Linked DNA regions of Homo sapiens. The protein of the gene in region 2 purifies or fractionates together with the protein of the main gene of each other region. This does not show direct contact. Each region holds a gene or a part of one and is shown on either strand. Other genes may lie near its edges. The genes, in order: CPOX and GUSB.

Region 1 (3,812 bases), on a different chromosome or scaffold from region 2:
AACGAACAAGTAAGTTAAAAGTCTTTAATTTCTGTTTTCCTATGAAAAGGATAACTGTAAGACTGATGTTCAAGGTCTGGGGGAGGATAGCAGTAACTGTGGGCAAGAAACTGGATGAGATTGCCAAATAAGAGACTGTAAAGTCAAAAGGGAATGAGACTGACTGCTGAAAGGGAGACCGGTGTTTGGACAGGGTGAAGACGAGGCAAAGTGGGTAACAGTAAGTGAAAAGGATACAGAAAACTGGTCATGACTGCAGTATTAGAAACCAAAGACAGTGTTGATAGCCCCAGAGAAGAACTGGAGTTATCTTAGGCCCCAGAGTTTATTGCCATCTTAAGGACCAGAGATAAGGGAGGCAGAAAGAAGCTGTCTTTGAAGAACAGTCACACACCATACCATAGAAAATTAATCTACTACCCCACAGTTCTGCCTATCTCATGACACCAGACATGCAATGATACACAACAACGACTTTCAGAATGATCTGCCATCAAACGATGTATAAAAAACAAAACAAAACCGCAAAACAAACCATTACTCCTGTCTATGAAGTTTTAAAGGATTCACCTAATTAGTATTGACAAAATCTGCCAAGTTTTGCCTTCGAAATCTTGTGCAAAACTAGAATACTTTACTTTGCACAGAGTTCTAAATTGTCCTCTTGGGTATGTCTTCCCCACTAAACTATGAGGTTCTTTTTGGCAGGTCCATGTTACAGCCACCGGGTAGCCAAGATAGTGCCTCATCACAGGGGCCCCAAAATAAGTATCAAGTGAAAGGAGGAAAGAGTGGTAAAGGTATATTTAAGAAATTATGGAAGCAAACAAAAAACATGTTCCAAAATACATGCATTCTTTAAGAAATTTCTAAAAATTTACTCTCATGTTTTTCAAGTTAATAAATGGGAACCAGATAGCACAGGCAGTCATAAGAAAGGATATACACAAATGTTTATCTTTAGACTGGAAACATTATTTAAGTTGACCTCTTTAAGGCAAAAGCTTTACCTCTTTAGTACCCAAAGCTTCTTTTGCCTAACACAGAATTAACGTCAATGAGAAAATCCATTTTATAGCCATGTTTCAGTAGTATACAGGCATTTAAGGTGGCAATGAGAAACTGATTGGGGCCAGCAGGCTGTATAACTTGGAGTGGATTTACAAGTACACCGTGGCTGGAGACAGCCTCAGACTGGACACCCCACTGAGCTCACCAGGCTCACTGCACAGAACAGGGTGGTTAAAGTGAGTATCATGGTAAGAAGCACAAACCTGCTTCAGCTGCTTAACTTTAGGCACTACACAGACTATAAGTTTTGAGGTCATTTTGACCCAGTTCCACATCTGAGATCTTAAATTTACCAGCTGTGTCTCTTGGGCAACAGACTTAACTTTCTGAAAAAAGATGATTACACCTATCTTACAGGTTTGTTGAAAAACATCAGATACAAAATGCCTAATGTAGAGGCCAGCAAAATTTCTGAAATTATTTCCATTAAAATAACTTCCGTGAAATCTTTAAGATGAATGAAAAAAGGTGTGATTCCAAATTTACAAAGCAGCAAAGACATTAAATGAAGTCTACATCTTGACATAAGGCTGGAGGGTATTACAAGAAGACTAAGAGAAATCAGCAGAATTAAATTCAGGAAGTACTTACTACATGCCTACTATGAGTCTCTAATGTATAGATGAATTAAATAAACTTTGCTATAATTATAATATTACTTTACACAATGTCTTTTAATTCACTTAATATTCATCTATGAAAAGAAATTAACACAACTATTACAAAGTATCTGACAACACAACACCCGCTATTATTAAGAGCTGCTCCACCTCCCCCACTTAGCCATGAAAGAATTCGTTTTCCAGTCACTTACCGTCCTCTTCTGAGCTGCTGCCACAGCTTCTCCTGGGGGGTGAATGAGTCATCACAGTGCTTTTTCACAAGGGGAATGTAAGAAGGAACTACAGCCCTGGCACAGCTCTGTACAAAGCGAAACACCTCCTCCTTGGACGGAGAGTCAAGATCATCAAAAAAGATACCACCAATGCCCCGCCGTTCTCCACGATGGGCTATAAAGAAGTAATCATCACACCTGGAAAACACAGCGGCGCCAAACCAGGGATCAAATGGAAAAAAACAGACATGAAAATCAATGTGAGCCTTTCAGGTTACAGCACTATCCTCAACTAATGTCAGGATGGTGTCCTTACTTGCTGTCCAACTATGAAAATGAAATGAGGACTTTAGACAGATAGATTTTTTGCAGATATCACCAAGGTAGAAAATGCTTATCCTCTTTTTCTTTTCTTTTCTTTTTTTTTTTGAGACGGACTCTTGCTCTGTCCCCCACGCTGGAGTGCAGTGGTGCGATCTTGAATCACTGCAAGCTCCGCCTCCCGGGTTCACGCCATTCTCCTGCCTCAGCGTCCCAAGTAGCTGGGACTACAGGTGCCCACCACCATACCTGGCTAATTTTTTGTATTTATAGTAGAGACGGGGTTTCACTGTGTTAACCAGGGTGGTCTCGATCTCCTGACCTCGTGATCTGCCTGCCTCGGCCTCCCAAAGTGCTGGGATTACAGGCGTGAGCCACCATGCCTGGCTGCTTATCCTCTTATTTTCAAGGCGAACAGGCAATTTCACACAAGTCTCTGTAAAGGATGTGAAACTCTAAGAACTTTAGTGAAAAGAGAAACAGTCCAATATCGATAGTGTATTTCTTGGAATAAGCTGCTGCCTTCGGAAGCACTGCTGCTTTTGTAGGAGGCAGGAGGACAGGAATCTTCCACTAACAATGACACCAACCATGGTGCAAATCCAAGCTCTCTTGAGTGAGTTCTTTATTCACCAAAGGAAGGTACTATAAACAATCTCTCAGGTCTCTTTCAGAAATAAAATTTGATGGTTCTATAGCATGAAAGACAGGGAAAAGTTGGTGGAAAAAAAGGTTCAGATGATATCTTTTATTATTTCATATGTCATATCAGACATATGAAAGTTTACCCTGTGAGGCAGCACATAAAACTATTAATCTGTTCTTGAGTCTTTTCCCCTCTATGACTACTAGAACAGGTTTCCTAAGAAGCCATTTCCTGGGCCGGACGCGGTGGCTGACGCCTGTAATCCCAGCACTTTGGGAGGCCGAGGCAGGCGGATCACGAGGTCAGGAGATCGAGACCATCCTGGCTAACACGGTGAAACCCCGTCTCCACTAAAAATACAAAAAATTAGCCAGGCGTGGTGGTGGGCACCTGTAGTCCCAGCTACTCGGGAGGCTGAGGCAGGAGAATGGCGTGAACCCGGAAGGCAGAGCTTGCAGTGAGCCGAGATCGCACCACTGCACTCCAGCCTGGGCGACAGAGTGAGACTCCATCTCAAAAAACAAACAAACAAACAAACAAACAAACAAAAAAGAAGCCATTTCCTAACTGTTAAACTTGTAAAATAGTTTATATCCTAAAAGTAGTTCTTTTGATAATCTCTGCATAAGGGTCCTTAAATAGAAAAACATGCTCAAACAAAAACTAAAAGCTATTTAAAAGGTTACCTTAAATACAGCTTCAATTGCTTAAACAACAACAACAAAAAACAACAGATGCAAATCCCTAGAACTGACGCATAGGTAGAATTCACCTTAATCGTGACTTGTTGGCCTTCTTTATATGCACATTTTATTAACATAGTCTAAAAAAGTATATCCTGAGTAAAGTTGTAAAGTCAGTTTTTAACCCAAATCATACTATTTCAAAATCTCTCTTTAAAACATTACAAAATTAAGTGATCTACTTATTTCCTAGTCA
Region 2 (3,812 bases):
GGTCTTTTGCCCCCATGTGGTGACCCTGGCTTCAGCAGGAGCCCAAGACAGGTGGATGGGCAGGCATGGTCCTCTGAGCTTTCTGATGTTTCTCACCCTTGGTGGGAGGCCCATTTTCTTTTTTTTTTTTTTTTTTGAGATGGTCTCACTCTGTCACCCAGGCTGGAGTGCAATGGCCTGATCACAGCTCACTGCAGCCTTGAACTCTCAGCCTGCAGCAGTCCTCCTGCCTTGGCCTCCTGAGTAGCTGGGACTACAGGCACATGCCACCATGTCTGGCTAAATAAAAAAAATTTTGTAGCCTGGGCAGAGTGACTCATGCCTGTAATCTCAGCATTTTGGGAGGCTGAGGTGGGTGGATCACTTGAGGCCAAGAGTTCAAGACCAGCCTGGCCAACATGGTGAAACCCCATCTCTACTAAAAATATGAAAATTTGCTGGGCATGGTGGCGAACACCTGTAATTCCAGCCACTCGGGAGGCTGAGGCAGGAGAATTGCTTGAACTCAGGAGGCAGAGGCTGCAGTGAGCTGAGATCACACCACTGCACTCCAGCCTGGGGGACAGACTGAGACTGTCTCAGAAGAAAAACATTTTTTTTTTATAGAGATGGGGTCTCAGTCTGTCAGCAGGCTGGTCTTCAACTCCTGGACTCAAGTGATCCTCCTGCCTTAGCCTCCCAAAGTGTGGGAACTCCAGGCATGAGCCACCTTGTCTTGTCAAAGGGAAGGCCATGTTTTGAAGGGCAGGTTCCCAGGGTCAGCCAGGGTAGGGCAGAACCTCTGATTGCTGCATCTCTGCTTACAGGCCCAGAGGCAGCTGCTGGGGTGCACGAGGGGCCTTCCTGCTGGAGGGCAGGCCGGATGGGGCTCAGGCTGTCGGGGTGCTCACACCTGGTGCTTTGGCTGTCATAGGTGCAGCTGACTGCACAGACGTCACTGGGGCCTGTGTCTGACTTCTACACACTCCCTGTGGGGATCCGCACTGTGGCTGTCACCAAGAGCCAGTTCCTCATCAATGGGAAACCTTTCTATTTCCACGGTGTCAACAAGCATGAGGATGCGGACGTGTGTTGGGGCTCCTGGGTCCTTGTCGGGGCTGCTTCTGGTCACCCTCCACTTTCGCCTTCCCTGTGTCCTGCAGTTGAGGGCAGCTCAGGGCAATGAGGCAAATGGCTCCAAATGGAGAGGGGGCTCATGGGGTGGCTCTCCAGGGTCCTGGCTCTCAGAGGAAGTGCAGCTTCGACAGGGACAGGGGTCACTTGGCTCTGCTATCTCCTAGATCCGAGGGAAGGGCTTCGACTGGCCGCTGCTGGTGAAGGACTTCAACCTGCTTCGCTGGCTTGGTGCCAACGCTTTCCGTACCAGCCACTACCCCTATGCAGAGGAAGTGATGCAGATGTGTGACCGCTATGGGATTGTGGTCATCGATGAGTGTCCCGGCGTGGGCCTGGCGCTGCCGTGAGTCTCTGCTGTGCACCTGCTCCGCCTGCCCAGCCCGGGGGCGTCACCGTGACCCTCTGTCCCTTCCCTCCTGGCCCGCAGGCAGTTCTTCAACAACGTTTCTCTGCATCACCACATGCAGGTGATGGAAGAAGTGGTGCGTAGGGACAAGAACCACCCCGCGGTCGTGATGTGGTCTGTGGCCAACGAGCCTGCGTCCCACCTAGAATCTGCTGGCTACTACTTGAAGTGAGTGCTCCCTCCCTGCCCTCGGCTAGAGTGGGAAGGAGACCCTGGCAGGTGGCTGGCCTCGGTGGGCATGTGCTGTTCAAGATCGGCCTCGTGTCCAGCCCAATGGGAAGGCCGTCCATACCCAGATAGTTCAGGGGACCAAATATCTACCCACCCAAATTGTGGTTTTCTTTTTTGTTCTTTTTTTTTCTTTTTGAGATGGAGTCTCACTATATGGCCCAGGCTGGAGTGCAGTGGGGTGATCTCCGCTCATTACAACCTCTGCCTCCTGGGTTCAAGTGATTCTCCTGCCTCAGTCTCCTGAGTAGCTAGGATTACAGGCACCCATGAACCACTGTGCTGGGGCTGTTTTTTTTTTTCAAAATGGGTTCTCACTCTGGTTGCCCAGGTTGGAGTGCAGCGGTGCAGTTTTGGCTTACTGCAGCCTTGACTTCCCAGGCTCAGGTGATCCTCCTGTCTCAGCCTCCCAAGTAGCTGGGATTCTAGATGTGTGTCATCACGCCCAGCTAATTTTTGCTTTATTTTTTATTTTTTGGATATGCAGTCTCCCTCTATTGCCCAGGATGGAGTGCAGGGGCATGATCTCAGCTCACTGCAACCTCTGCCGCTCAGGTTCAAGTGATTCTCCAGCCTCAGCCTCCCGAGTAGCTGGGATTACAGGCACATGCCACCACGCCCAGCTAAGTTTTCCTTTTTTCCTTTTTATGAGATGGAGTCTCACTCCGTGGCCAGGCTGGAGTGCAGTGGCGCAATCTCGTCTCACTGCAACCTTCACCTTCCAGGTTCAAGTGATTCTCCTGCCTCAGCCTCCTGAGGAGTTGGGATTACAGGCACACGCCAACATACCCTGCTAATTTTTGTATTTTTAGCAGAGACGGGGTTTCACCATTTTGGCTAGGATGGTCTCGATCTCTTGAACTCATGATCCGCCTGCCTCGGCCTCCTGAAGTGCTCGGATTACAGGCGTGAGCTACCACGCCTGGCCAACTTTTGCATTTTTCAGTAGAGACGGGGTTTCACTATGTTGGGCCAGGCTGGTCTTGGACTACTGACCTCAGGAGATCCACTTACCTCGGCCTCCCAGAGTGCTGGGATTACAGGCGTGAGCCACCGTGCCCGGCTAATTAGAGACTGGGTTTCACCATGTTTGCCAGGCTGGCGTGGAACTCCTGGCCTCTAGTGATCCTCCTGCCTCACCTTCCCAAAGTGCTGGGATTACAGGTGTGAACCACCACACCTGGCCCCCTTTTCTTCCTTACAATCGTGCAGTTCTAACTCAGCGTTCAGAGTTGGATTTTTCACTTGGGGTAGAAGCAGGAGAGGTGGTAGAAATGCCTCTTGACTCATACAGCACACCCCAATTTCATGCAGTGCTTTGGGCTGAGCCAAGTCTGCAGCAGGCAGAAGGCTCTGAGAAGTTGTTGCAGCCTGGGCCAAGGACAATTCAGAGCTTGGGGGCACAGGGGTGTGCTCAGCAGGACTGGGTGGACAGGCCCTTTGTTGCGAAGGGGAAGAGTACAGGCTTCCAGGAGCAGGTGTTTGAGGCTTCTTTGGGAGGTGGCCAGAGGAGATGCCTGTTTTCTGGGGCAGGATTTGGAGGGAGCCACCCAGGCTGGAGAGGTTCAGCCAGGCTGTCACAGGCTTTGAAGTTTCCCATCTGAGAGCCTGGCTGTTGGAGAGTGTGGGTTTGGAACTTGAGGCTAGGGGGTTCTTTTCTGATCTGTGCCAGCCACAGCCTTCGGATAGGCAGAGCAATGATGGGGGAGGGCGTAAAAGAAGAAATGAACTGAGGAAAGAGAAGAGGAAAACAGGCTTCAACAACAGTCTAGGCTGGGTGCGGTGGCTCACGCCTGTAATCCCAGCACTTTGGGAGGCCAAGGTGGGTGGATCACCTGAGGTCAGGAGTTTGAGACCGGCGTGGCCAACAGATATTGAAACCCTGTCTCTACTAAAAATAAAACAATTAGCGGAACACAGAGGTGGGCGTCTGTAATCCCAGCTACTTGGGAGGCTGAGGCAGGAGAATTGCTTGAGCCCAGGAGGTGGAGGTTGCAGTGAGCCAAGATCATGTCATTGCACTCCAGCCTGGGCTACAGAGTGAGATTCTGTCTCTCAAAAA

Evidence for each region.
Region 1: the proteins of GUSB (region 2) and CPOX fractionate together in Homo sapiens (co-fractionation; one large-scale study listed by BioGRID). This does not show direct contact.

The regions. Positions count from the first base shown.
Region 1 is NC_000003.12:98,583,556-98,587,367, forward strand, and holds part of CPOX (oxygen-dependent coproporphyrinogen-III oxidase, mitochondrial precursor), read right to left. Parts: intron 2,664-3,812; coding exon of another isoform or gene 2,663-2,663; exon of another isoform or gene 2,111-2,662; intron 2,105-2,110; coding exon 1,886-2,104; intron 1-1,885. UniProt on the Homo sapiens protein: Catalyzes the aerobic oxidative decarboxylation of propionate groups of rings A and B of coproporphyrinogen-III to yield the vinyl groups in protoporphyrinogen-IX and participates to the sixth step in the heme biosynthetic pathway.
Region 2 is NC_000007.14:65,972,173-65,975,984, reverse strand, and holds part of GUSB (beta-glucuronidase isoform 1 precursor), read left to right. Parts: intron 1-913; coding exon 914-1,066; intron 1,067-1,280; coding exon 1,281-1,459; intron 1,460-1,543; coding exon 1,544-1,690; intron 1,691-3,812. UniProt on the Homo sapiens protein: Plays an important role in the degradation of dermatan and keratan sulfates.